Linked DNA regions of Homo sapiens. The protein of the gene in region 3 binds, or shares a complex with, the protein of the main gene of each other region. Each region holds a gene or a part of one and is shown on either strand. Other genes may lie near its edges. The genes, in order: GPKOW, PPIL2, CWC15, CWC22, SRRM1, SNW1 and BUD13.

Evidence for each region.
Region 1: CWC15 (region 3) and GPKOW share a complex: the UniProt entries of both Homo sapiens proteins name them as parts of the minor spliceosome.
Region 2: CWC15 (region 3) and PPIL2 share a complex: the UniProt entries of both Homo sapiens proteins name them as parts of the minor spliceosome.
Region 4: CWC15 (region 3) and CWC22 share a complex: the UniProt entries of both Homo sapiens proteins name them as parts of the minor spliceosome.
Region 5: CWC15 (region 3) and SRRM1 share a complex: the UniProt entries of both Homo sapiens proteins name them as parts of the minor spliceosome.
Region 6: CWC15 (region 3) and SNW1 share a complex: the UniProt entries of both Homo sapiens proteins name them as parts of the minor spliceosome.
Region 7: CWC15 (region 3) and BUD13 share a complex: the UniProt entries of both Homo sapiens proteins name them as parts of the minor spliceosome.

The regions. Positions count from the first base shown.
Region 1 is NC_000023.11:49,113,255-49,117,358, forward strand, and holds the end of GPKOW (G-patch domain and KOW motifs-containing protein), read right to left. Parts: intron 3,909-4,104; coding exon 3,776-3,908; intron 3,070-3,775; coding exon 2,967-3,069; intron 2,761-2,966; coding exon 2,637-2,760; intron 2,542-2,636; coding exon 2,472-2,541; intron 685-2,471; coding exon 599-684; intron 502-598; coding exon 367-501; 3' UTR 153-366; downstream 1-152. UniProt on the Homo sapiens protein: RNA-binding protein involved in pre-mRNA splicing. As a component of the minor spliceosome, involved in the splicing of U12-type introns in pre-mRNAs.
Region 2 is NC_000022.11:21,682,788-21,686,891, reverse strand, and holds part of PPIL2 (RING-type E3 ubiquitin-protein ligase PPIL2), read right to left. Parts: intron 3,711-4,104; coding exon 3,635-3,710; intron 2,140-3,634; coding exon 1,979-2,139; intron 410-1,978; coding exon 334-409; intron 1-333. UniProt on the Homo sapiens protein: Has a ubiquitin-protein ligase activity acting as an E3 ubiquitin protein ligase or as an ubiquitin-ubiquitin ligase promoting elongation of ubiquitin chains on substrates.
Region 3 is NC_000011.10:94,963,111-94,967,214, reverse strand, and holds part of CWC15 (spliceosome-associated protein CWC15 homolog), read left to right. Parts: intron 1-801; coding exon 802-920; intron 921-3,700; coding exon 3,701-3,830; 3' UTR 3,831-4,104. UniProt on the Homo sapiens protein: Involved in pre-mRNA splicing as component of the spliceosome. Component of the PRP19-CDC5L complex that forms an integral part of the spliceosome and is required for activating pre-mRNA splicing.
Region 4 is NC_000002.12:179,969,000-179,973,103, forward strand, and holds part of CWC22 (pre-mRNA-splicing factor CWC22 homolog), read right to left. Parts: intron 2,078-4,104; coding exon 1,942-2,077; intron 1,858-1,941; coding exon 1,651-1,857; intron 1,565-1,650; coding exon 1,502-1,564; intron 1-1,501. UniProt on the Homo sapiens protein: Required for pre-mRNA splicing as component of the spliceosome. As a component of the minor spliceosome, involved in the splicing of U12-type introns in pre-mRNAs. Promotes exon-junction complex (EJC) assembly.
Region 5 is NC_000001.11:24,656,632-24,660,735, reverse strand, and holds part of SRRM1 (serine/arginine repetitive matrix protein 1), read right to left. Parts: intron 18-4,104; coding exon 1-17. UniProt on the Homo sapiens protein: Part of pre- and post-splicing multiprotein mRNP complexes. As a component of the minor spliceosome, involved in the splicing of U12-type introns in pre-mRNAs. Involved in numerous pre-mRNA processing events.
Region 6 is NC_000014.9:77,736,899-77,741,002, forward strand, and holds part of SNW1 (SNW domain-containing protein 1), read right to left. Parts: intron 2,164-4,104; coding exon 2,068-2,163; intron 1,987-2,067; coding exon 1,880-1,986; intron 178-1,879; coding exon 73-177; intron 1-72. UniProt on the Homo sapiens protein: Involved in pre-mRNA splicing as component of the spliceosome. As a component of the minor spliceosome, involved in the splicing of U12-type introns in pre-mRNAs.
Region 7 is NC_000011.10:116,762,988-116,767,091, forward strand, and holds part of BUD13 (BUD13 homolog), read right to left. Parts: intron 2,460-4,104; coding exon 2,375-2,459; intron 280-2,374; coding exon 1-279. UniProt on the Homo sapiens protein: Involved in pre-mRNA splicing as component of the activated spliceosome. As a component of the minor spliceosome, involved in the splicing of U12-type introns in pre-mRNAs.

The DNA.
Region 1 (4,104 bases), on a different chromosome or scaffold from region 3:
TGAGCTCACAATCAAATGAGTCCTTTAACTTGTCCTGTACCCTGAGCAGAAAAGCAAGGCTGAAAAGTGAAATGGTTCCCACCTCAGTCAACTCAGTTCCCACCTTAACTCGCAGCTCATCATACCACTTATGATTTCATCTTTCTATTAAGTACTTGAAATGGTTTTTATTATACCCTAAATTTTGGTAAATATTGGGTTTGTTTCTAGCTTCCCTACTGGTTCACCCATCCCTTTCCCTTGTCCTTGTCCCAGGACTGCACCAGAAGTAGAGGATGGAACAATGATCTTCCCACCTTCTGAAGGCAACTTTCTCATATGGTACAGAACTGGTACCAGCCTGGGGGATGGGAGGAGTCCCATGGGTCAGTCATCATCTGTGTCACTAGGGCCCATGTACTGGCAGATGGCATCGTAGTGAAGCTCCACCACCTGATTTTCTCTTGGCAGTTGCACCAAAGCCCGGCTCCGTGCTCTGTCCCGGCTCAGCAAATGTCCCACCTGGAACAGAGGTGAAGTGGAATCAGCAAGGCAAGCCTAGACCCTGGGACAGGCCCTGAACGACCCACAAACCTCTACTGCCAGGTCTGAGACTCACCCTTCCAGTCTGTGGGCCCAGCACCACCATCACACGGTCACCCTCTGCCTTGGGAACCAGGGTCTCCAGCATGTCTTCCCTCAGGCCTATGGATAAGGGAGAGGGGAGTGAGGCCCACAGCAAGGACCAGCCCAACCAGCGTCCTGTCAGAAGGGCCTTTCCTGGCCAGGCGTGGTGGCTCACACCTGTAGTCCCAGCACTTTGGGAGGCTAAGTTGGGAGGATCGCTTGAGCCCAGGAGTTCGAGACCAACCTGGGCAAGATGGTCAGACCTCATCTCTACAGATTTTTTTGTTTTGTTTTTTGAGACTGAGTTTGGCTCTTGTTGCCCAGGCTGGAGTGCAATGGTGTGGTCTTGGCTCACTGCAACCTCCGCCTCCTGGGTTCAAACGATTCTCCTGCCTCAGCCTCCTGAGTAGCTGGGATTACAGGCACCCACTACTGCGTTTGGCTAATTTTGTATTTTTAGTAGAGATGGGGTTTTGACATGTTGGTCAGGCTGGTCTCAAACTCCTGACCTCAGGTGATCCACCCTCCTCGGTCTCCCAAAGTGCTGGGATTACAGGCATGAGCCACCGCGCCCAGCCTACAAAAAATTTTAAAATTAGCCAGGCATGGTGGTCAGTGCCTGCAGTCCCAGCTACTCAGGAGGCTGAGGTGAGAGGATGGCTTGAAACCAGGAATTTGAGGTGGCAGTGATCCATGATGGTGCCACTGCACTCCAGCATAGGTGATAAAATGAGACCCAATCTCAAAAAAAAAAAAAGAAAAAAAAAAAAAAGAAGGGCCTTTCAGCTGGGTGTGGTGGCTCATGCCTGTAATCCCAGCACTTTGGGAGGCTGAGGCAGGAGGATCACGAGGTAAGGGGTTCAAGACCAGCTTGGCCAATATGGTGAAAACCTGTCTCTATTAAAAATACCAAAATTAGCTGGGTGTGGTAGCGGGCACCTGTAGTTCCAGCTACTCAGGAGGCTGAGGCAGAAGAATAGCTTGAACCCGGGAGGCGGAGGTTGCAGTGAGCCAAGATTGCGTCACTGCACTCCAGCCTGGGTGACAGAGTGACTCTGTTTCAAAAAAAAAAAAAAAAAAAAAAAAAAAAAAAAGAAGGGCCTTTCCTGTATTCCCTGGAGCCACTCTACACCCTGTTGACAGATGGGAGTCCCGCCACATCCATTTCACAGATGAGGTAGCCTAAGGAGTAGTTTACAAAAATCACTGTAATAAAGGGTGGTGGTGATAACAACAGGCACCTTTTATTGTGGGCATGTTTTAACCCCTGCCCTGCACTGAGAGCTCAATACACATTCCTTCACTAAGGCACCAATCACAAGAGGAAGAAATAGTAAATTCCATGCTAATTTGACAGACCGGAGGCCGAGCGCGGTGGCTCACGCTTGTAATCCCAGCACTTTGGGAGGCCGAGGTGGGAGGATCACTTAAGGTCAGGAGTTCCAAGACCAGCATGGTCAACATGGTGAAACCCTGTCTCTACTAAAAACACAAAAATTAGCCAGGTGTGGTGACGCTTGCCTGTAATCCCAGCTACTCGGGAGGCTGAGGCAGGAAAATCGCTTGAACCTGGGAAGTGGAGGTTGCAGTGAGCTGAGATCACGCCACTGCACTCCAGCCTGGGTGACAGAGTGAGACTCTGTCTCAAAAAAAAAAAAAAAGAAAAAAAAGAAAACTTGACAGACTGGGAGAGTGGGGCTCAAGATAACCAACCACCATCATGGAAGTGTCTAATGTTCTGTAAGAGGATGCTAGGCCTTGCAAAATACCTGAACTCTGCCAAACCTCCCAGCTTTGCCTGGGCCAGGCTCTGGGCCTAAAACACTCTTCTTGATCAACCTCCAGCTGCCATCGCTCAAACTCACCTTCCAGGACTCGGCCTTCATCTGTCCGACATACACAGGTATCTGGGCTTAGGACATCTTCAATTATCATCTGGGGATACAGGTCAGGGGGATGTGAGATTTTAGAGAGGTAGGGGGGCCCAGTCCCTAGGAGAGGGAGGGGGACTCAGGCTGCAGGGTTCCCACCTTGGTGTTGTAATATTGGCCTCCTTTGTACATGTTGTCCACAAACCGCACACGCAGGTCCCTGTGCAACCAGTGCTGACTTCTGGGGGCTGCTTTCTCACTCTTGGCTGCAGGCCCATCCTGTCTGTGGAGAAGGTGCCAGCACCAGGCTTAGCTCTTCATCAGATGCACTTTCCAGTTGCCCTCCCTTTGCCTATGCTATGAAACCCACCCACAATGCAGTTCCCCGTTCCTTCTATGAGCCCGCCTTGCCTTGGAAGCCTTCCCTGGCTGCTCGAGCCTACCCACAGCCCTGCCTTCTTGACCCCTCCCGCATGCTCAGAGTCCCACCGGTCTGGAAGGTGTTTCCGCTTCCTCTCTGAGTTGTCCTGCTGGATGTAGAGTTCTTGATTCCAGAGGGTCTTCCGTGATGAGGCAGTTCCGTTCTGTTGCCCTGGGGAAGGAAGTTTTGCTCATCTGGCCTGTTCAAGAGGTTATGAGGAGAACCAGGACAGAGCCTCAGTGTCTCACTGCCCTTTCCTTCCAAGGCCATGTCTCAGCCTAGAGCCACCTCCCACCTGCCAAAGTGCCCCTCTCACCCCTCATGCATTTGCTAGTAGAATGCCTCTCCCCCACCTCTCAACCATTTCAGCTTCCTTCAGGAACCCTCCCGCAGCCAACCTAGCCCACAACAACAATGCTCACCTAGTGTGGACTAGAGATTCCCAGAGAGCTCTGTCTGTACCCATTTGCCAAACTGCCCCGTCCTACCGAAACGCCTTCGCCTGTGCTGTTCTGTCTGCCTAGAATTCCTTCCTTCTTGGTCACACCCTAATCCTAGCAGTTCTCACTCCCTAGTAAAAGAGAGGTTCATCACCCCAAATGGACAAAGATCTCGAAGGTAGGAATTGGTTTCTGCACCTGTTTCTTCTCACTCAGACAGGCTACAGACCCAGGGGTATGACATCGACCTTTCTCCAATCAAATGGAGTAAGTCACTTATGTCCATTCTCACCTCCTGACCTCTGATTGGAAGTCATATCTGCCAGGCACACTGCTGCCCCTCCCTGCTGCAGATCTAAAACCACCCCATTAGCCAGGCCCTGCCACCCCTAGGAATGCGTTGCCAACTCCCCTAGCTCTACAAGAGGCTCACTCACTGAGATCCAAGGTGTTCTTGTCAAACTCCTGCTGGGAGACAGGCCGCAGGTAGTACTCACTAACAGTCACCACCCGGCTCCCCACAGCCAGACGAACCATGGCCCGAACATTGTCAGGATCAAGGCCTTCCACCTAAAGTGTTGAGGGGAAGAAGTCAGGTAGGGGTTGTGGACTCCACCCACATTCCTAGGACCAAGATGTCAACCCCTTACCTCTAAGAGGCCTGCTTCCTCTGTCTCCCCAACCAGACTCTGACCCCTGAGAAGTGGGACCAGGTCTGGTTCCTGTGTCTCCCTCAGCTGACTGTGGGGCTTCCTTGGATCCTTTA
Region 2 (4,104 bases), on a different chromosome or scaffold from region 3:
CTACAAGCCAAGGTCCCAGCTCAGCCCCTGCCCTCACCCTGGGGCAGCCCCACCATGCCAGGCAGCACCGACCTCAGACACACAGGCGGGGACTAGGCTCCAGCTCTGGGGAGAGCAGGGGAGCTGGAGGCCGAGGGTCTGCTTAGGCCACGCACAGGCTCACCCCAGCCTCATGGGGCTGGCAGGGGTTCAGCAGCTAAGAGGGGGAGGACTAGGGGCTCAGGTGACAGTGGGAGCCCCTGACAGACCAATAAAGTGGGAGTCGGGGAGCACACCCACCCCCTGCCACTTTTGGGTCACATGGCAGGTGGCTACAGAGGCCAAGGTGGCTACCTGCTTCATGTGTGGTCTCCGGGACCATCGCGGTGGAGGTGAAGGAAGCGCTGACCTTCCCTGTGGAATAGTGGGCCTGCCAAGGAAACCAGGGTGGCACCTCAGCAGTGCCATGGGAGGCAGTTGGGTGGGGACGTGTCGCTTGCCTAGAAGCCAACCACACGCCACCCCTGCCCCCCAGGCCCTGCTTGGTGCCTCTCCTCCAGGAGGGCCTCCCCAACCAGCAGGAGGAAGAAGCCAAGGCTAGGCCAAGCCAGGGTCCCCTGGCCTCCACTGGATCCCGACTCTTATGATATCAGGTGAAACCCTGGAGATAAAATACCACACAGGACTGGCCACCTCAGGGTTAGGAGTGTATGGCTGACTTCTCATTTATTTTTATTTTAATTTTTTTATGAGACAAGGTCTTGCTCTGTACCCAGGCTGGAGTGCAGTGGTGTGTGATCCTGGTGCACTGCAGCCTCCAACTCCTGGGCTCAAGTGACCCTCCGACCTCAGCCTCCTGAGTAGCTGGGACGACAGGCGCATGCCACCACGCCTGGCTGATTTTTTGTAGAGATAAGGTCTCACTATGTTGTCTAACCTAGTCTTGATCTCCTGGCCTCAAGCAATCCTCCTGCCTCAGCCTCCCAAAATGCTGGGATTACAGGTGTGAGCCACCACGCCTGGCCTCATTTCTTTTTAAAAGTTTCAAACTTTCTACACTAAACACATTACATATTTAATCAGGGGTCGGGGAAAAGCCCCAATAAATGTTATTTTTTATCATAGAGGAAGAAAAAGGGGTTTCTCCCATCAGAAGAAAATACAAGCCAGGCACAGTGGCTCACACCTGTAATTCCAGCACTTTCGGAGGCCAAGGCAGGAGGCTCTCACTTGAAGCCAGGAATTCAAGACCAGCTTAGACAACATAGCAAGATCCTGTTTCCAAAAGAAAAAAAAAAGTAATATATCAAAGTGCTAAGGGCAGTGTGTTAGACGGAGTGACACACTGGACAACAAGCTTTCTTTTTCAAATTTTCCAGAATTTGAATAATTCTTTAAGAAGGAGAACTTCAGAGCTACCTGCCCATGTCTCTGCCCTCCCCCTAGCTCCAGATCCCCATGCTCTGCCTGACAGGAGGAAGAAGCAAACACGACAGCCCCAGACAGGTGGCACCGTGCAGTCCCAGGCATGCCATCCACGTCAGCACCGCAGCAGACCATGAAACGCCCCAACTCTCCCTGGCATGGCTTTGGGCCCCAGTGCACATCGGGCCCTGCCCTCCCAGCCACCACAGAACCACATGTGCCCGCTCAACGTGCCTGCCCTGGCTACTGAGCTCAGGCTGGGACCACAGCACAAGGCAGACCTTCTGTGGCAGGGATCTCCCCTACATGCCCCCACACACCCCTTGGTTCTTCAACGACCAGTGTGGACATCAGCCCCTCCCCTTCTGCCTTCTCAGATTCTATCTGCCTCAGGGCAGCCCCAGGGCTGTGCACTCAGAGCCATCAGGGGCACCACAGCTCTGGGGGATCCTGGCTGCCTCCCTGCCGTGTATCCCAGGCCCCCATGAGCCCCTTTCCCAGGACCACTCCAAGAGGCCATGAGATGGGCAGGAAGACGGGGCTTGGGCTTGGCCGAGTGCCCTCCGCCACTCACAGCGTTCAGCTTGTCCACTTTCTTCTTCTCCGGGGCCTTCATGGTGGCTGCCAGAATCTCGTCCCCTTTGAACTCCTTGTAGAGCTCCTGCAGGGTCTCTCGGGTCTCGGCATTTGTATTTTTCAGATAATAAGACGGGTCCTGTTTGGCCTTCTCTTCATCTACAAAACAGTAGCATGGCCCTGAGCCGCCGAGCCCCCAGTAGCCTCCCCACACACGTGCTGGGGACACAGATCTAGAATAGCCCAGGGCCGTCCAGCCATGGCGCAGGCACCGTGCCACTGCCAGCCACAGAATGCCACAGTGCCCCGCTACAGGCCTGAAGGTCTCCCCAGGCAGTTCACAAGGGTCTCAGGATGGACTTCAGGTTGATTTGTATATTTTATATTTATCTGTATATTCTAATCTTTTTAGAGTATACGCTTTGCTTTTTTTTTCTTTTTTTTTTTTTTTTTTTTTGTGGAGATGGAGTCTCGCTCTATCGTCCAGGCTGGAGTGCAGTGGTGCAATCTCGGCTCACTGCAAGTTCTGCCTCCCAGGTTCACGCCATTCTCCTGCCTCAGCCTCCTGAGTAGCTGGGACTACAGGCGCCCGCCACCACGCCCGGCTAATTTTTTTGTGTTACAATCTTGTAACCTCGTGATCCGCCTGCCTCAGCCTCCCAAAGTGCTGGGATTACAGGCGTGACCCACCGCGCCCAGCCTTTTGAGACAGGGTCTAGCTCTGTCGCCCCAGCTAGAAAGCGGTTGCAAGATCTCAGCTCACTGTAGCCTCCACCTCCTGGGCTCAATCGATTCTCCTGCCTCAGCCCCCCAAGTAGCTGGGGCTACAGGCGCACCAACTACACCCAGCTAATTTTTCTATTTTTTGTAGAGACAGGGTGTCCCCATGTTGCCCAGGCTGGTCTCGAACTCTTGAGCTCAAGCAATCCGCCTGCCTTGGCCTCCCAAAGTGCTGGGGTTACAGGCATAAGCCACCACACCCAGTTGCTTTGCTTCTGTAATTTTAAAGGTTATTTTTATTTAAAATAATAGAAGTGTTTGGGGGTCTTTCCAGATGTGAAATCACCCATTCTTGCCGACTCAGGAGGGTGCCTGCTGCCTACTGGGCCTTGGACAGCAGCCCACCCTGTGGAGAGGGGCCGGCATCCCTGTGCAGAGAGCACAGACACGGCCCAGCCCCAACCCTGACCTCAGGCTCTCCTGACTCAAATCTTCCCCAGTTCACGTGCTCAGCCTACCTAAAACCCGTTCAAACAATGCTCACAAAGTGCCCAGGCCACTGCTCTGCAGCACAAGGCCGAGTGACCTCTGAACATGAGTCCTGCTGGCTCCTCCAAGGCTGCAGGACAGCCACCAGAGGCCAGGGAAACAGGAGGACCCCATCACCCCACCACCTGCCCACTGACAGCACCGGCCAGTCTGCAGGGAGCAGGGGAACCTGAGCAGGTGTGCTGGCAGGGCAGCAAGTCTATCCCGCCCATTGTTTCTGAGGCTGCAGTTGGCTCAGATTCTCTGAACACTAGTTCAGAAAATGCAGGGCCTGTCTGGGCTGGGACCCCCTGACCTCCAGGAAAGCGGGGGCTTTACCCAGGGAGCACTGTCCCAATTTCATCCAAAAGCCCCCTCGCCTAGCCCAGCCCCTAGGTGTACATACCTGGGTCTATTATTTTCATGTTATTCTTCACATGATAGAAGTTAGAGACATTGAACTTGTCCAAATTGGTGGGGTCCTGTGGCAAAAAGAGAATGCCCAGCAGAGTGAACCCAGCCTACGGCCAAATGGCAGCCACATGCAGCAAAGGACGGCCAGCTGTCAGAGGTGTGGAAGAGGCCAGGGCTACACTGAGGTTGGGGGAGTCAAGCAGGGCATGAGGGAGGAGGTGGTCTGCCCCAGGCAGGGCAGCAAACAGGGGCAGGGGCAGGGACGGGGACGCAGCCTCGCTAGCTGCTGGCTGAGCTGTGACCTTCCTCCAGGCACATGGCTAACGAGCATTCATTGCTGTTAGGGAGCTATCGGACCGGAACGTGGGCAGCCGTGGGCCGACCTCTGGTTAGAATGGGACAAGCCACAGAGGTGATTGACTCAGCAGGCCACGCTCCAGCCAGCACCTGCTTTTCTAAGTC
Region 3 (4,104 bases):
CTCTACTAAAAATACAAAAATTAGCCGGGCATGATGGCACGTGCCAGAGGCTGAGGCAGGAGAATCACTTGAACCTGGGAGGTGGAGGTTGCAGTGAGCTGAGATCATGCCATTGCACTCCAGCCTGGGCAACAGTGAGACTCCGTCTCAAAAAAAAAAAAAAGAAAAACTCAGTAAGACAATAAAAACAAAATAGATCAACCTCAGGTAAATTAGTAGAAATTCATGTTAACTGGATATAATTTTGTATATGGTAGTTTGTCCTATTTTAGGAGTTACTTCTTCATTCATAACTTGTCACCAAACCTAGAGACACAAGTTTACATTATTAGTAATTCAAAATAAGATTAAAATTAATCACAGTTAGGTATGACCCTTTAAAATGAAGGTAATAGTTTTGCTAAATGTGTCTTTTTGATATTCAATATGTTCTTAAATTATTAGAATATGCTTATTGATATATGCTTAAAATTTAAAGCAATTAATTTGACATGTACTTCAAGAAAGAAAATAGATTTAAATATGGATCTGTAGCATTTCACAGTTGGAAGAGACTAATTACTGTATGATATCAACCATGAAATATTTATAATAAAAATGCTAAATTATTTTATTTTGATGAGGGAGACTTTTCTAGTATGCCTCAAAAACCAAAAAAAAAAAAAAAAAGCCTGCCTTGATGCTTTTGTTGCCATAAAATCCTAATGATCAGTTTTGTTTTTTTTTTCAGTGAGCTAATATAAAAAAAATTGAACCCAGAGTTAAAATAAGTAAGTGTTAATCTTCCTTTATCATTGACAGGAACAAGAACAAAAAGCTGAAGAAGAGAGGATTCGTATGGAAAACATTCTGAGCGGAAACCCTCTCCTTAATCTCACTGGCCCATCCCAGCCTCAGGCCAACTTCAAAGTTAAAAGAAGGTACTATACAGTAACGGAGTAATGGAGTGTGTGTGTGTGTGTGTGTGTGTGTGTGTGTGTGTGTGTGTATATGTGTATGTGTATACACACAGGCATGCAGATTATAAGTTGGATAGCAAGGTGCATTGTAAAAAGCTTCTAAAAGTCCACCGTCCATTCACTGATACTCTTCTCTGTTCAATTAGGAATAATGGAAGAAGCCAAATGAAAGAAAATAAACTTATTTTCAATAGATAGTTGCAATAACCAGCTGTGTACTAGATAATGATGTAAGCACTAGGGACAGAGTAATAAACTGAGGCCCTTACATTTTAGGTGTGCATATCAAGGGTCCTCAAGATGGCCTCTCACATTCAGACACTCACTAGAAGAACTCAGGGGACTTGGTGTATAGTTAATATGCTTGGCTAAGGTAATAAAGACACACAGCTAGATTATAAAGGGAAAAGACACACACAGAGAATAGAGGAATCCATGTGCAGGTGTCACTATGCTCTGTCCCTTCCATGAGTGGTCACACAGCACATTGTTTCCCCCAGCAAGGACAGTGCAGCAACGTGTGCAGTGCTTCTGCCCAGGGAAGCCCATTAAAGATCCCGCGCCCAAGGTTTTTACTGGGAGTGGCTAGTCATGTACGCAGCTTTTGCTTAGCACATACCAAAGTCCAGACTCCTAAAAGGATAGTAGGTGTTCAGTGTAAACCACATTATTTGTAAATTATAGGCACAGTGACAGAAGATTTCTTAGATCCAAATTTTCAAATGCCAGCCAGGGGCCAGCCTTGCAAGCAGGCATTTCTAAGGATTGTAGTACTAGGCCTGCTTTTTAAATTCTGTACAGTGTGTGTGTGTTTGGAGGGGTAAAAAAGGAGGGCTGAAAAGGGAGAAAATATAAGTTGTAAATACTGTAAATCCTTCAGATGGTGATATATAAAATAAAACAGAAAAGCTTACAGGAAATGCTGAGGGAGGAAGATTGGTTGTTATTTTATATGCATTCGTCAAGGAACCACAGTGCTTAATTTTTAAACCATATTCGTTATTTTTCACCACCTCTACTGCTGTTATCTGCCATCTGGAGTGATGCAGTACTGCTGACTGCTTTCCCTTCTGGAGTGATGCAGTACTGCTACCTGCCCTCCTCTCTGGAGTGATGCAGTACTGCTGAATGCTTTCCCCTCTGGAGTGATGCATTACTGCTACCTGCCCTCCCCTTTGGAGTGATGTAGTACTGCTGACCGCTTTCCCCTCTGGAGTGATGCAGTACTGCTGACTGCTCTCCCCTCTGGAGTGATGCAGTACTCCTGATACAGTTCGGGAATTAGTCCAAGCTGGAGATAGTAGATTTGGAAGTTATCAGCTCAGATAAACTTTTTAAAGCCATAAGACAGGATGAAGTCACCTAGGGAAGGGTATAGCTAGAGAGGAGAAGTCAGAACTGAGCTTGGTATGTTTAGAGGTTAGGTAGATTATTAGTTACCAGTACCTGTTCTAATCATCTAGCCAGCCTCTAAACATTATACAAGTGCCTGATAAATATTGATTGAGTTAATTTTGAATGAAAAAGTCTAGGCTAACAAGGAGCAGCCAGTTGGGAAGGGAGGAGAACTGAAAGAAGTGAAACAAAGTGTTTCAGGAGGAGAGGAGTGATCATCGAGGACAAATACTAATGTCAGGAAAGAGCATTTTGGTGTTGGGAAGGAGGGACAAAAAGCCTGTTTGGAGTTGAGGAAAGACTGGATACAGAAAAAACTGTACTGATTATATACAAAAATAAAGCTATATAGTTTGTTCTTTTGCCTTTTTTGAATGTAAATGGAATTGGAGATAGAAACATGTCTTATATCCCAGTCATATTGATCTGCTCAGCTTGTTATGCTTCTGTGTACTGCATCAGTGATGACTTTACTGCACTGTTTTCCAAAGGTGCCCACGTTTGTTGCTCATTGTGCACTTTCCCACATTTGTTCCCATGTGCAGTTTCTCCTGACGTGTAAGCGCATGCACACATAAACACACACATATGGGCTTGTGTTATATATATATTTGTGAGGGTATCAATATTATGTATATGGGCCTGTGTTTTATATGCTAGGTGATATTCTGAAATCATGCTCTTTATTTTCTATAACACATGTATTTTATAACTTATTTATGGGTGTTTTTTTTTCGTGCTTATACATTATGGAATCCAACCAGAGTTCTGCTCTGAGCTCTTCAGCTGGTACTTCTCCTTGGTTAATGTATATGTGGGCCATATCTGAGCCTTAATTATTATACCCCAATGATTCCTTCTCCTTTTGTTGGCCTATAATGTGGATATTACAGTAGATGATTACTAAACATTAACTGATAAAAGAGGAATATCTACAATCCCCAAAACCACATAAACTACATTAAATTGATTGGCTACTATCATGTACAGATGCCTACACTAATATTAGGGTAGTCCTCGGTGCTGCTTCTTTCTATTAGACCTAAAAACATTAAATATTTATGCAATTAAAATCTATATATTTCTATTTTTTAACTCAAAAGTTTCTTTTACTGGAGAAATAATAAGAATGTTTTAATGTTCTAAGTAGGAATTGCCATTCTTGCTATAAGAAAGCAAGATTATATATTAAGGATGACATTATTCTTTTGAGTGTAATTGCTGCATCAGATGATACACATGTTGAGCATCTTTCTGTGTAACTGACTAAGCCTTGCAGTGCATGTAGTATTCTTGTCTCCTGATACAAACATTTTCAGACGTTCTGTTTGCTTTTTTTTCCTCAGGTGGGATGATGACGTTGTCTTCAAGAACTGTGCAAAAGGTGTAGATGACCAGAAGAAAGACAAAAGATTTGTAAATGACACACTGCGATCTGAATTTCACAAAAAGTTCATGGAGAAATATATTAAATAGTACAGTTTTATGTGCTTAATTAAAGACTGTAAAACGTAAAGGATCATTCTGACTTTTTTTATGAGTTTTTTTTTTCTTTTCCCCTGTCTAAATTGTGTGTGGGCTTCCCCAGTTTTAAACTCCTATCTTTTTCTTTAGTGATACCTTACTTGATAATGGACTTGGGAATAGGTTTAACCCAGTTTGCATTCTCCAAATGTTTCCAGTGATATGTTTTCCTGGGAAAAGCAAATCTGCCTGTAATAAATATTTTTAATCTAAATAACCAAATCTG
Region 4 (4,104 bases), on a different chromosome or scaffold from region 3:
ACCCACATAAAAAGAAGCTCTTTGGAGTTGCCAATAATTTTCAAGAGTGTAAAGGGATCCTGAGACGAAAGAATTTGAGAACTGCTATAATAAAAGAAAGTACTACTTTCCAGGCATTGGCCAATTGCCTAGATGCTAAAGAAATGGATAGAGAATTCTCAAGTTTAAAAAAGAAAGAAATCAAATCAGGTGTATCTAAGAATTTCACAAAAAACATTTGGCATTTTTCAGGGAGACTGTAGGAAAAGAGGTTCATAAGAAAAGAAGGCAAAATGGATCTATGGAGTTCTCTGTTTGGAAATGAAATTATAACAGAAAAAAAGAATCTGGCATATTACAGTGAAAAGCTCCTAGGAAATCAGCATCTAAGAAGAGAAACTCATTATTATAACAGGTTTTTAGGATAATGCAGAGGAATGGAAGATTTCTCCCAATTTTACTTTTCATTTCAACCTTCTACTTCTAAGCACTACTGAACAATGGAATGCAGACAGAGACAGAGTTCTAGGTTTCTGCTTTCTCTGTATATGAGACTACATAAGGCTGGTCTTTATGTTAAAAGCAAACAAATGACAAAAACTAAAATTACATTTTGCCCAATGGTGCTGTTAGCCTGATAAAAGATTTTGCAAAGCTAACCAACTCTTTACATTTCTATTATAATCAGAGAGCTTTTAATACAAACTTTTGGGGTTTAATACAAAGGTAAATTTTATTGCTTCCACAGCAATAAATACTTCTCCAGTAAAATTACAACTCAAGAGAAATAAGCCCATAAAATTATTATGTAAGTAGGCCTGAGTGTTAGCTTTAGGAGGAAAATAATACAAATGTGAAAATAGTAACTAATAATAGCTATCATTGTAGGTGATAATACACAACACTGTGTTTTATATATCCTTCCATAGAAAGGTAACATTTAGTCTTCCAACAAACAAGTAACTTGCTACAGGTCACTCAGCTAGTAATGTCAAAGATAAATTACACATCAAAACCTGTCCAAAGTTAGTACTTACAATATACCAATGATGTACAAATGAAAATGATCAATTTATTTTATCAGAGAGGCACCAATACTATGATTCATCCTACCAGAAGGATATTAACCTGACCTCAAGAAACAATAAAGTATAGCACTTTACAATAAAGTATACCACTTAATTGAATACTAAACTGGGTGGCACAGAATGTAAATGGTAGAGAAGCTAAATAAAGGCCACCACTAATCTATGAATATTTCTTAAGATGGGTGAGACGTAAGTGTTGCATAGTTTAGAGGGAAAGAGGAAAGAACAATGGGGTAAGTAATTCAGAATGAAGTAAAAAACCCTGGGCAAGCACCAGGAAAAAAATAATGCCCGAGGAAACAGCTAAGAGAATAACTTTATAAGAGCAGCGATTCATTAGGTGGGGATCTCTAAATATTTGCTATCAGTATTACGTAACTACTTAAATTGCTTCTACTTATCCAAACTAAATTATTTTATAAAATTTTACATACCTTTCTTAATAGCTTTGTACTTCTCTTCATTCTCCATAAAATTAGGATCCATCTTGAAAACATCTAAAAAAAATGTAAAAGTTAATGTTTATTTTCTATATTTACATTTGTTGGTAAGCCTCTTTCCAACTAACATGCCCCGGACTTACTAAGAACATCTTCTGGATTATAGTCATCCTCCAGAGGGAGCATATGAGTGAATTGATCATCTTCTTCCACCAAATCAAGACCTTCTAGGATAATGGGGTGGTCCTTGAATCCATCTTTCCGTACAGCAAACATCACTTCAATCATATATTGAACTCTTTTGTCAATTTCAGACTCATGCAGAATGTTTCGAAGGCGTTCAAATATAGCTAAAAGTTAACAGAAAGAAAAGACAATAAAATAAGCAATAAATATAATAAAAACTTAACATCAAACTATGAATGTACACTTACCATTGATTCCTCTTGGTGACACTTGTGTTAATTTGAGGCCACATTCCTTAAGAAAACCAATAGCTACTTCAACGCTATCATCTGTTGGTCTTTCCAGGAGCAAAGTGAGCATCTCTAAGCATAATACTTCGTGTGCCTTAAATAAAATACATATACAAGGAAGAAACAAAATGCTTTTACATACATTAAATTATTTTTATAATTTCTAAAAATTAGTAAATCTGTTTACAATAATTATATTGCACATATGATGGGCAAAGTTTTATAAAGCACATGGAAATACTCCAAATATGGGATACAATTTTTCTATCACTTTTATTATCTGTCTACTAAGAATTTTCAGATGACTGTTTCAAAAATCTTAATTTTCTATGCTGAATACAACTATTTGAATTATCTTCAGAAGAAATATTCTTAGCCATTATGTACGGAAAGTGTCATAGATAAAATATGTTAAAAATCATATACTACTTTCTAATAAGGTAATTATTTTCATAATTACTACATAAGAAATAGTAATATGATTTATAATACCCTTCTCCATGATCACAATTCTTTATATACATTTCCCAATTCATTCTATCAGCAACTCTATTAGACACAAATAGTCCTTAAGTTACATGAATACTAATTTTATCACAAAATATCTTAACAACTTCTGGAACACAACAGTTTTGAATAGTCTATCTTTTTTTAAAAAATTAAATCAAACTATTACTGGCCACGTTCAAAAACTGACATTTATAAACAATGCCAGGAAGAGTGGGAATAAAATTCTATTGAGAAGTTTGCTAAGAGAAGAAAACGAACAACAAAGAATGTTTAAAACACCATACATATGCCTTTCTAAAGTCAGACAGTGATTTAAGATGGTGAGGAAAGAAGTCTAAATCTCAACTCAGGAGATATCTTCTTCCAGCTGTGCACAACATCAAAGACACCCACTACTTCTTTTTACTAGGGGAGGAGGGGTGTCAAACAGTCTTAGGTCAGTGACAAGAAAATACTGCCCTGTACCACAGCTGGAAGATGCAAAAAATTTATCATATCGAGTGTTTCATGGCAATGCCAAAAATCTCTAGTCTAAGTGTAATACACATTTAAAAACGGAAATATATCTCTGGTTACAGATGTGAAATTAAGTTTCCATGGTCTTAAGTAGCAAGTTATCACTGTAATAATATGATGACTAATTAGGTCAAAATCTAAAAGATTTGTAAGAGTGAAAGAATTTTCATGTAAATAAGAATCAAAATATTTAATATTAGTGAAATAAGACTAAGCATGACTTTAAAATTCTTCCTGTTATACATGATATTAAATTGGAAATGATAATATATATCTGAAGGAAACTTTTGAGTATGAGCAAGGACAATTTTAGCATTTTCATGGTTAAATAAAAGCTAAATCAAAACCATCAAATAATGAATATAAAATAAACACAAACTGAATAACAGCATGATAAAATTACCTGCATTTGAAACAGATTAAAATCGATCAACTCTATTCTATCAAGTGATTCTAAAAATATATGACTATACCTGTGTGGTTGCAAGGAATAGAGGTTTTTGTAGAATATCAGATATTTATTAGATTCTCATGAACAGCAGGGAATGAAGTGGAGGAGATACCAACTTTATTGTTTTATAAAAATGAAGGGAATGGTTCTTCAAAGGAATGGTTTGCAGTCAAGTAACCATGTACAGTATTAAGTCAGATTAATTTGATAAATATCTAAAGTGTTTTGATCAGCATCAAAGTGTTATATTAAAGAATATTAAATATGGCCAGGCGTGGTGGCTCACACCTGTAATCTCAACACTTTGGGAGGCCGAGGCTGGTGGATCACGAGTTCAGGAGATCGAGACCATCCTGGCTAACATGGTGAAACCCCGTCTCTACTAAAAATACAAAAAAAACTAGCCGGGCGTGGTGGCAGGTGCCCGTAGTCCCAGCTACTCGGGAGGCTGAGGCAGGAGAATGGTGTGAACCCAGGAGGCAGAGCTTGCAGTGAGCCAAGATTGTGCCACTGCACTCCAGCCTGGGCGACAGAGTGAGACTCCATCTCAAAAAAAGAAAAAAAAAAAGAACATTAAATATATTTATTATAGTTTTAAAATGAAAATATCATCCAACATTTTTATCCCAAGGACTATAAAGCAA
Region 5 (4,104 bases), on a different chromosome or scaffold from region 3:
ACCTTTATGTTTTGTCACTAAAAAAGAATAAGAGTGGAAAAAAGCTTACGTACAAAAAAAGGTCTATACAAGATGCTTTTCTTTTAATTTTTAAAAATTTATTATTATTTTTAAATAAAGATGGGGTCTCACTATATTAGTCAGGCTAGTCTTGAACTCCTGACCTCAAGCAATCCTCCTGCCTGAGCCTCCCAAAGTGTTGGGATTACAGGCACAAGCCACTGTGCCCAGCCAAGATGCCTTCCTGCTATTACAAAAATGGGTGTGACTACTCTCAAAAAGAATTTATGAAGACTTAAAAAATTCCTGTAAGACCTTGTTGTCATATCTGAACATTATCTGAAGTGAGACAAGAATTTTTAAATGTTTAATGAAAAGCCTCAAAAAGTTCTACAATGATTTTCAAATCTTGAGATTCTCCCAAGAAAACCAACAGTTAAAGGAAATTGGGAGCTGCTACTGAGTAGAACAAGCTCAGTAAAGTAAACCTCTGTGTGCTACACGAGCTCCACAATCTAAAATACACACCCTCCACACCCACACTCACTCCCTCACACTCAACTTCAGAGACTTCATCAACATGAAAGCTTTTAAGCAACCACAATAGGTGGGTTCAGAAAAGTAAAAGATGATAAATGATTAAGAAATAAGATCTCATGAAACTTTCACAAAGATATTTGGTCTAGAAAAGAAGAATGACTGCCCAACAGGTTAAAGGTTCTTTATGTAGAGCATAATCTTCACAATAGCACAGGGGATTTAAACTACCCATGAAAAAAAGCAGACCGCCACAAATAGTAAAAATGATTAAATACAAAGACGAGGATTCTTTCCAAAGAGCTAGAAAGAAAAAAAGGCATTTCTATACCTCAAGTAGTAGGAGAGCAGTGGGTATCCTATGAATTATCCAATTGTCTTTTACCAATAACATAGAAATATGGTAACTACCTTTTGTAAGCCTGCTGTATTAGACACACTATTAACACAGTAGTATCACATCCCTTTCTCCCTGTTCCATTTCACAAGAGAGGAAACCTGAGGCTTAAAAAGAAGCAACTTCACCTCAGTCACAAAGACAATTTAAGTGAGCTAAGATGTGAATCCAAGAATCTATTTTTAGGCCATGGGTTTTAATCTCAACAACTAACTCTGCTTATAGTATCTATCCATTGCTACAACTAAAATCATAAGTATATTCACATATAAACATATATATACCATAAATTAACCTAAAACACCACTTGAGAACATCCCAATAAGAAATAAACCTACAGACAATTTGATCCTCTCAGGATCCTGATACCTGTTTTGTGTGATTAAAGCAATTGCCATGGAATGTTTGACTCAGAATACAGATACATCTCATTTAACAGACACTCACATTCAGAATTCTGTAATGGTTTATTCCAAGGGGCAGTAATTAGAGAACCAGTGATCTAACACAGTAATCGCATCTTTGCTAAAGAAGTCAAAATGAAGAATTTACCAGTATGCCTTTTCAATGAACAGACTTTTCCCTTTCTCTCTCTTTTTTTTTTTTTGAGACAGAGTTTCGCTCTTGTTGCCTAGGCTGGAGTGCAATGGCATGATCTCGGCTCACTGCAACCTCCGCCTCCCGGGTTCAAGGGATTCTCCTGCCTCAGCCACCTGAGTAGCTGGGATTACAGGCATGCGCCAACCACGCCCGGCTAATTTTGTATTTTTAGTAGAGACAGGGTTTCTCCATGTTGGTCACGCGGGTCTTGAACTCCCAACCTCGGGTGATCCACCCACCTCTGCCTCCCAAAGTGCTGGGATTACAGGCGTGAGCCACCGCGCCCAGCGACTTTTCTTAAAATTTCTACGTAATAAGCCATTTGGACAAATCACTGGATTGGGTAAAGAATGGCTATCACTCAATTAGATATCAGGAATCATGACAGTGCAAATAGCAAACTATACTTAATACTTATATTTTAACAAATTCAAAGAAATAAAAATATTTTAAAATTGTTAACTATTTGAGGCTCTTTTTCTAAGTCCATATTCTCTATTTTTAAGTGTTACTTAATCCTCAATTTCTGCAAAGATATTATGGGCACGTCGTTAAAAAGTGCATGTCCAAGTTACCACACCTTAGAGAACTGGGTTCCCAAGCTTGCTTTGGAAGCTGATTGTTTGGATACATTTTCCCCTAAGAAACATTAAAAATGTGGTTATGCTTACAAGATAGTTGGCAAAAGCCTACTCATTATATAATACAAGTGAATTTAACATTATTTCCATTCTCCCCCAGTGGAAATACACATCTGGAGTTGCATCCTGATTCAATTTCTCACTAATTACTCAGCTAAAGTAGTCTTTATTAATACATTTGTATTAGCTGGGTGTGGTGGCATGTGCCTGTAATCCCAGCTACTCGTGAGGCTGAGGCAGGAGAATTGCTTGAACCTGGGAGGCAGAGGTTGCAGTGAGCCAAGACTGCACCATTGCACTCCAGCCTGGGCGACAGAGCAAGACTCCGTCTCCAAAAAAAAAAAAAAAAAAATTTATACCATCAAACAACTATCATTTATATACTCCTACTCTGGTTTAATACAATTGAATCACAGCATTATTAATATTATAACAGCACTTCAGATTTCTATTTTTCTAGATGAGACTTTACACCATTTACTTTATGTTAATGTTGTTTTAAGTATTCAAGGGACAAAATCATTCTAGCATGAAGTCAGAAATCGTAGAAGGCAACTTTAAAACCACAATTTTAAATTTACTCCAACAGTCCTATTAATTATTAATCTTAGACCTGCCCAAAAGATCACTTATAAAGATAAGTTACTCTGTGACCAACAATAGTAAAATAACCATTTAAGTGTCCAGATAGCACAATGTATGTGGCCAAGCTAATCTAAATAAATCAAAATTACCACACCGTCACCACCAGTATTGATCATGTTAACATACTTCGCTGACTGTGCCACTGATTTCAAGCACTATTTTATGTACTAAGATAATGCCAATTTATGAAATGTCAGTAATTACAAATGTTTCCCCTAAGATCCCTTCAGATGACTGTATACTGTATTCCAAATAATTAACCTGTAAGTTCCCCAAAACACTTTTCCTGCCTCCCTCCCACTCCATTTGCCCACTATCAAGAGCAGAGCCCTAAAGCCCTGATTAGTGGCCACTAGGGAAAATATTAACTGTAATATCTATTACATTTCAATGATGTTACTGTTCTAAGCAGCAGAAACTGCAAAGTAATTTCTGAAATCATACTACCAGATAGAGAAGCTAAAGAATTTCAACCCTGCCCTCCATTTCTCACCTTTAGCAATCAAAGAAGAGTTCTGGGGTAGGAAAGTTGTGAAAAGTATTCACTATTTAACTGGGAATGACAACTCAAGTTTTATTCCTAGTTGGTTGACCTTGACCAAGTCAACTAACCTGAAAATCTGTTTCTTGATGACAACTGTTAAGGTCTTTTCTAGCTCTGAAATTTCATCACAGAGGGCTGGGATCAGTTTAATATAAAAGGTTGTCTGGGCCGGGTGTGGTGGCTCACACTTGTAATCCCAGGGGTTGGAGGCTGCAGTGAGCTATGACTGGGCCACTGCACTCCAGCCCGAGTGACAGAGTGAGATGCTGGCTCTATTTAGCGGGGTGGTGGGGAGAGGTTATTTCCAAGTAGGTCAAACCAATATTCAGCTCCAGTGGTCACAGGGGAGACTGACTACACTGCCTGTAGTGCCTCTCTTTGGGTAGGTTGTTTGAACACGGAAGCCCTGTCCCAAAACCCACAGAAATACTTATTTTCACCATGGCTTACTTCTTTCCTATGTACATATCCACTCTTGTCTTGTTTGCAAAAAGTATATGCCAAAACACAAGAAATTAGCATCTGTGCAGATGCTTTTTAAAAGTACCTAATAATTCTTAACAATCAACCTATTTTAACAAGGATTGGTCCCTCTGTTCAGGTACTTTTGCAACTCTTAGGCTATATGATATAAATAGAAAAAAATCATCACTTGATGTGTTTTTGCAAAGTAACAGGTAAAAACACTTGTTTTTTTCCCTGGAGAGCTTTGTGGCTCCAGACAAAGAATAAATATTCAG
Region 6 (4,104 bases), on a different chromosome or scaffold from region 3:
TTCACTCAGCATATTGTTTTGAGATTCATCCATGTTATTGTGTGTATTAGTAGCCTATTCCTTTTCACTTACTTGAACCTTGGAGGCTCCATTGGATCTTTCTGCATTTCTACCATCCGAATAACCCTCTGTTTAGCTCCAGAGTTGAATGCCACTCCTTGCTGAGATGGTGTGTATCTGAAGAAAGCAGATAAAAACTAAAGGTGTAATTAGTTCAAGCTTTCAGTAGGTATTTTCCTTCTATTACAATCTTAAGCTAGACTACATTTTCAATTCCTTTCGCAAAGTATTAACAGAAAATTAACAAAATATTTAGACAAAGCAGACAGCAAGAGGGATAAAAGAACATAAATTATGAGTTACAGTCAAAATATAAACTTGAGTGGTATTAGTTTGCAAATAACCCATCCTCATATGTTTTCCAACATGGAAGGTGCCGTGTTCAGTTTCACAGATAAGCAGTCTAGAAAATAGTACCTATTTAGTATGCCTGCATCTGAGGAAAAAACACTCATAATAATCCCAGCAGGCAACTTACGGTTAGCAGTTTTTGATTAATCATAGGTTATAAAACAGAGAAAAGAATAATGACAGCAGCCCTACCAGCTCTGAATTTTTCCTCAATATCTGTATGTGATTCAATTCTCTATGCAGATTTAGTCAAGTAAAACGCCTCAAAATTTAGAAGTATTATAAAGATATCTATTACTTATAAATGGAAAACTATAAATAATAATTGTGATTTAGGTCATATACCACAAGTAACTGTTAATTTCTAAAAACAAAAAATATAATTTGAAAATAGCATAGGGCCAGGCCGGGTGGCTCATGCCTGTAATCCCAGCACATTGGGAGGCCGAGGTGGGCAGATCATCTGAGGTCAGGAGTTTGAGACCAGCCTTGGCCAACGTGGTGAAACCCTGTCTCTACTAAAAATACAAAAATTAGCTGAGCATGGTGGTGCAAGCCTGTAATCCCAGCTACTCAGGAGGTTGAGGCAGGAGAATCGCTTGAACCCAGGAGGCAGAGGTTGCAGTGAGCCAAGATTGTGCCACTGCATTCCAGCCTGGGTGACAGAGTGAGACTCCATCTCAAAAAAAAAAAAAAAAAAAGAAAATAGCATAGGCTGGGCACAGTGGCTCACGCCTATAATCCCAGCACTTTGGGACCTGAGGAGGATGGATCATTTGAGTTCAGGAGTTCGAGACCAGCCTGGCCAACATGGTGAAACCCTGTCTCTACTAAAAAAAATACAAAAATTAGCCAGGTATGGTGGTGGGCACCTGTAATCCCAGCTACTCAGGAGGCTGAGGCAGAAGAATCTCTTGGGAGGCAGAGGTTACAGTGAGCCAAGATCACACCACTGCACTCCAGCCTGGGCAACAGAGCAAGATTCTGTCCCCCACCCCAAAAAAAAGCATAAAAAGAGGCCAAGTCTGGTGGCTCAAGTCTGTAATCTCAGCACTTTGGGATGACAAGGCAGGAGGACTGCTTGAGCCCAGGAGTTCGAAAACAGCCTGAGCATCACAGCGAGACCCTGTCTCTACAAAAAATTAAAATATTAGCCAGGCATGGTGGCATCAAGGCAGGAGGATCACCTGAGCCCAGGAGGTGGGGGCTGCAGTGAGCTGTGTTGGTGTCACCGTACTCCAGCCTGGGCAACACAGAAACTTTATCTCAGAAAACAAACAAAAACCAAAGTGGACACCTTAAAAAATTCTGCTTTCAATTGTCTGCAAAGACAGTAGACAGGCTTTGAGTCATTATTGAAAACAATGCATTTATAATGGTTGCTAAGTGGGTTAGTGAAAGAATACCATGACCCCCCAAGCTGAATCAAGTTCAGAATGAAACTAAGTCTTCTAGGCATGATTCATACCGGATATACTGAGCAGGAGCCAATTTGTCAGCTGCTCGAACTGGCATGGCTGCGGCGACCTTCTGTGATACAGATTTTTCTAAGGCTACTCTTGTCTTTTCTGTTATCTGAAATAGGAAATATCACATTGAGAGTTTGGAAGTTAATCAGGATGTAAATAGTCATCGAATATATCAATTCCCAGTTACCTCTTTAATAGCTTCTTCATCGGGCCTTTGCAGGTCTGGATCATCTGCATTCATAACCTCCTTTGGAACCAGGTCAGTGTATTTGCTATAAATGACCTAAAATGTTCAAACACAAGCAGGCTTAAGAAAAGCAAACAACGAAAAGAAACCTCATTAGCCATTTCAGATGTCAACATGCCCTCTCAGCACACTTAAAAATTTAGGACACTCAGATTTTCTCTTTTAGATTTTAAAACCAAGGAAGCTTAAAATATATAAACAAATTGCTACCCTGGCTGTAAGTTAGTAATTTTCCCTTGACCTCATGCATTTAAATTGTTTGAGATCTTCTAATCAAGTTAGTATCCAAATAAACCATGCCAACAAAATCATGCATTGATGATCACTATTTTTGAGGCCCACTAAAACTTGAAATTAATGATAATACAAATTGCCTATAGCACCATTAACCTGGATTACAAACTCATCAGAATTTAAGTCAGGTTACCAAATAATTTCCAAATTCACTGGGCCTGAAAAATTTTATTGACCTCATCCTATTTATAACGCTTCTCTTTTCTGCCATCAACTCTATTCACAGACTAAGAAAATAAACATGTGCCACAGTTAAAAAACCCAGAATGCTTTCTTCCATGAGAAGACAAAAGAAAAAAAAAAAGAAAAAGAAAAATATATTCTATATATACAACTTATTTTATATCCATTATCCAAATTGAGGCCTGTTATATGACTTCTACTATGCCCAACATGGTTTCTATTAGGCTGACACTGATGTGGTAGGCTCTTAACAAATAGAATACTGGTTACTTTCAGGTCCATCTATACTTCTTAAATATTTTCATAACAATTTACATGGCATATTTTAAAGTAAAAAAGAGATACAGAGGGGCCGGGCGCGGTGGCTCACGCCTGTAATCCCAGCACTTTGGGAGGCTGAGGTGGCTGGATCATGTGGTCAGGAGATCGAAACCATACTAGCTAACATGGTGAAACCCCGTCTCTACTAAAAATACAAAAAATTAGCCAGTTGTGGTGGCAGGCGCCTGTAGTCCCAGCTACTCGGGAGGCTGAGGCAGGAGAATGGCTTTAACCCGGGAGGAAGAGCTTGCAGTAAGCCAAGATTGCGTCACTGCACTCCAGCCTGGGTGACAGAGCAAGACACTGTATATTAAAAAAAAAAAAAAAAAAAAAAAGAGAGAGATACAGAAAATTCAATAAATAATAGGCATTCTACCTTTAATGCTTTAGTCAGAAATTCTTTGAGGTACATAAAAAGAAAGGACAACTTATAAATATCAAAGAAAATCAAATTCCTAGGCACTTGAGATCTCCAGAATTTTTTTTTGTAGAACTGTTTACCACTACAAGCCAAAGTCTTATATTAATAAGTCTATCATACATCATTCATTAAAAAAGTTTAAAGGAAATGCATGCTATTTCTAATTTTCTACTCCAAACAGAGCAAAAAAGTGTGAGCCACTTTATGGCTTATGCAACTTGACCTGACTTTGCCTATGCCTTCAATCTCCCCTTACAACTCTCACTCTCTCACTCATTATGCTTCAGTCACACTAGCTCATCTTCTGTTTCTTGAACATAACATACTTTTCCCCAATTCTAGGCCTTTACAGAGTTCTGTTTATCATTCTTCAAGTAAGCTCTCAATCTGTGTGTCTCAGATCAAAGGTCCTCCATTATCGAGGCTTCTTCTGATTGCCTTAGTAGTAACCCCTCCCCACCCAATCATTTGCTCCATAGCACTGTTTACTGTGATCAAGACTGTTCACAGCATGAAATTATCTACTTTACATGGTTATTATCTGTCTCCCGTATTAAAACAATAAAAACGGGGAGGGCACGGTGGCTCACGCCTGTAATCCCAGCACTTTGGGAGGCCGAGGTGGGTGGATCACCTGAGGTCAGGATTTCAAGACCAGCCTGACCAACATGGTGAAACCCCGTCTCTCCCAAAAACAGAAAAATTAACCAGGCATGGTGGTGGGTGCCTGTAATCTCAGCTACATGAGACGCTGAGGC
Region 7 (4,104 bases), about 22 Mb from region 3:
AAGGATCTGGAGAATCATGACGGGCCCTCCTTGGGGGTGAAGTGTCTGAGGAGTCATGACGGATCCTCCTGGGAGGAGATGTGTCTGAGTCATGACGAGCCCCTCTGAGGGGAGAAGGATCCGGGGTGTCATGACGGGCCCTCCTAGGAGATGGATCCGGGGTGTCATGACGGTCCTTCCTAGGAGATGGATCTGGGGTACCATGACGGACCCTCCTAGGAGATGAATCCGGGGTATCGTGACGAAAATGTCTGTTTGAGGGTAGGTCTTCGTTGTGGCCTAAACACAAATAACAAAGAGTCAGATTCCCACAAATGCTCTGTCCCTCTGTCCACCCCCACACCCAGTTTCAAAAGATGCTCCAGTAGCACATACCTCAGAACTGCTCAGAAAGCCCAAAAGGCCTGCACAGTTTTCTTGCTTAGGGGCAGCAAACCACCACTCATGAATATCTTAAGAATAACCCCTCCGCCTACCAAGTCATAAATTTGCAAAGCATTTTCAGCACATTTTTCATATTATACCCTTTAAGGTAAGCAGGGCAGGTACCCTTGTATTACAGCATGAAAACAGAGGCCACAGCCTCTGTTTTCAGCTGAGGAGCTGAGTGATTTCTTACCTAAGGTCACAGCTCCTAAAATGAAGACACAGGCTAGAATCCAAGTCTTCTAACTCCCAGTCCAATGTTCTTTCTAAAACCTCATTTGTGCAGAGTTCCCAGCTAGTGGCTCCTACTGATATTTTGCCTAGATACTTTATAGTTTGTACTCACTCTTCTTTCAATAGGTAAATTGACTAAAACGGTGAATATCAAAATAAAATGCTGTTAACTATTTAATCCATTTCACTGTGCTCTTTCTTAGAGAGGGGAAAAATCACCATAAAAAAGAAAGGAGCAAGTAATTACCAATCACCTACTGTGTGCCAGTGTTTCATAGAGATTACCTGATTCAATTCTCACAACAAGCCTAGGACATAAATACTGTCATTTCATTTATAGATGAGGAAGTTGATACTCAGAAAGATTAACTTGCCAAAGTCATATTGCTAATAAGTGGTAGAGGAATATTTAAATCCAGCTCTATTTGACTCCAGAGTCCATGTGCAATCTTTAAAATATGTAAAGCTTTAAAGTTAAAATACATAGTTTGAGACCTTCCATATTCAAAGGCACCACAGAATGAAATATCTATAGCAACTGGAACAGTTTCAAAATCCAGTTCTTCCTCTACCTCTATTTCTTGTCATTGAGCTCCACAGCCCAAATACAAATAAAAGCTGGGTAGGAACTGATGAATACTTGTTAAATGGATGAATTAAACCAAGTCAACTCCTTTACTTTGGGGAACAGCCCTATCTGATTGGAATCCACTCCACAGAGAAAAGTATGATGTCTGTGGGGGGCCTAACAGTAAATCTGAAGGAAGCAAGGGTCAGAGATTGGTAAGCGTACTTCCAATAACAAATTGGGATGGGGGAGTGAAAGCAAGGCAGAAGAAAAGGAGTGAGTGAGTGTGAGTGTGACTGTGTGTGTGTGTGACTGACCTTCTAAACATTCAGATACACAAGAAAAGGCACCGTGTGTATGTGTGTGTCTGTGTGTCTTCCTAGACAAACAGACATGGAGACCAAAAGATTCTCTTTGGAAAAGAATTCTGATTAGGCTACAAAAATCAAATACCTACTAGCAATTAAACAATTCTACAAATATTTATTAAAGGTAGCTCCTTGTGCTAGATAGGGGAATATCATGGCAAATAAGACTAGTCTATGCTCAAACAGATGTGACAAACAAATGCTTTTTATCCAATTCTCAAGGACTCAAATTTTTTTAAAGAGAGTTAAATTAAGATTATTAGCTTAGGAAGAGTCCAAAGTGGGCAAGTGGAGGGTAATGCACTATAAAACACCAATACTTAAGGAAAGAAGAGAGAAATTTACTAACACAAACAGAACAAAATACACTGGTCCTTGACCCCCCAGAAATGAGTTGCTTCATTGTGGAAGAGGATAGTGGTAGCTAAAGTCCCCAAATTCTGCTCCTGTTTCTTGTAAACTCCTCCCAAAGTCTTGCCTATACACCAAGTGCTCTCCTATTCTGAGTCAAAGAGGAATGGGTGCTCAAAGGCCTCCAAATTAGTCACCAACCTCAGTAATCCTAATGCCAAAATATAAGAGAAAGAGGAATATCTGGTCTATAAGTTCCTATGTCTTACTACCTCTGAAGAAGTCCAACTTCCTTTTTCCTGCTTTATTTTTCAGGATCAATGACATGCTAAAACAAACTATGCATTCCTCTAAAGAAAAGTATAGAAAAGGAAAAAAGATCTCCCCTACTAATGGAAATTTAGATTTATCTATTGTTGGAACTCACCTCCCAGAAGCTTCCATTTGGCACTGGAACGAAAGGCCTCCATCTGCTTTACCTCTTCTGGCCGCTCATCCACAAACTCTGCCACCTGTGAGAGTAAAGATTTCCTATCTTAGGAAATCCACAGGATCCAGCCAAGAAGCACTGTCTCAAGAACCTGAAGTTACAACCATTCCGATTCCTAACACAAGGGCGTACATATATCCAAAATGGTCATGAAGAAGTAAGTAGGGGTCTTCAGTTATGTTTGCTCCATAAACATCTGATTGTCACTGTATTGGTTTAATTGTAGATCCTTCTCTAATTAATCAATTACCCTGCAAAGGTTAATTTTTTTCATTACAAACCTTTTTATTAACCTGCTAGGTACACAACAGCCACTTGTAAACTAACAACTAAATTCCTTTTACACTTTTACTTCTACATTAACAGTGGAAACATAGGTGGCTCCCCCCATCATGCCTAGCACTAATCAAGGACTTTGGGTTTCTATGAATCCTTTCTTGTTGTAGGTAGTCACAGTGATAGGTTTTCTTGAATACAACCAAAAAGAGCCACTGAGATGTACACAGAATCATTAATCTTTAAGAGCTAAAACCACATTTCATATCTTCTAAACTTCTGAACAAATCAGAATCTTCTCTATAGTATTCCTAATAAGTGGTCACTCGCCCAATCCCTTCCTGACAAGGAACTCATTATCTTACAACACAGTCCACTGCATTTTTCAAAAATGTTAGAAAGTTCTTAGTTTTACTAGTACCGTATCTGCCTTCCTATAACTTCTTTGAATTCATTCTAGTTCTGACCTGTGATGTAAGTCCACATGACAAACTTTCAAGATTGCTGGCATAATAAATCCTAGTTACAGAGTAGCAACTATGTGCAAGGTACTGTGTTTTGTGGTTTACTCATATAATCTAACTCGATTCTCACAATAATCCTGTAAAGAAAGGCTCCACACTACTGAATAGCAAACTGATTCGGAGAAGTTCAGTAACTTTCTCAATGTCACAAGCTAACAAGTGGCAGAACTGGAATTTAAATCCAGGTCATAATAGCCCTCTACTTCTCCCAAAATCCTACCATCATTCTTCATATAACCCAGTTTTGAGATCTCTCACTGAGCGTTAAAAGCACAGGTTTCGGGCAAGATGAATTAAGATCTAAACCCCAGCTCGGCCACTTAGCATTTGTGTAACCTTTGGTAAATTATTCTAAGCCTCAATTTCCTCATTTGTAAAAGTGGGATTCAAAGGATTGCTATAAGGATTGAATGAGATAATTCACGTAAGCTTAGCCATGCTTGGTACATGATAAATGCCCAATAAATGACACCTATTAATTATTCCTGTGCTGCCACTGCTATCGTAATCATCATAATCGTTTTACCATTATTACTGGTGGTGGTGGTGATCTTGCAGTTACAAAAATGAATTCAGTAATCAAGATCTGTTTTAACCAATGCAGAGAGCAGTGGCACTAAAGCCTCCTTTGTTTAGGTTTTTGGGCCATCATAAAAGCAAGACAATATTATAAAAGAAAATGGCCAGGTGCGGTGGCTCATTCCTGTAATCCTAGCACTTTGGGAGGCTGAGGCGGGTGGATTGCTTGAGCCCAGGAGTTCATGACCAGCCTAGGCAACACGGTGAAACCCCGTCTCTACCAAAAACACAAAAATTAGCTGGGCATGGTGGCAGGCGCCTGTAATCCCAGCTATTTGGGAGGCTGAG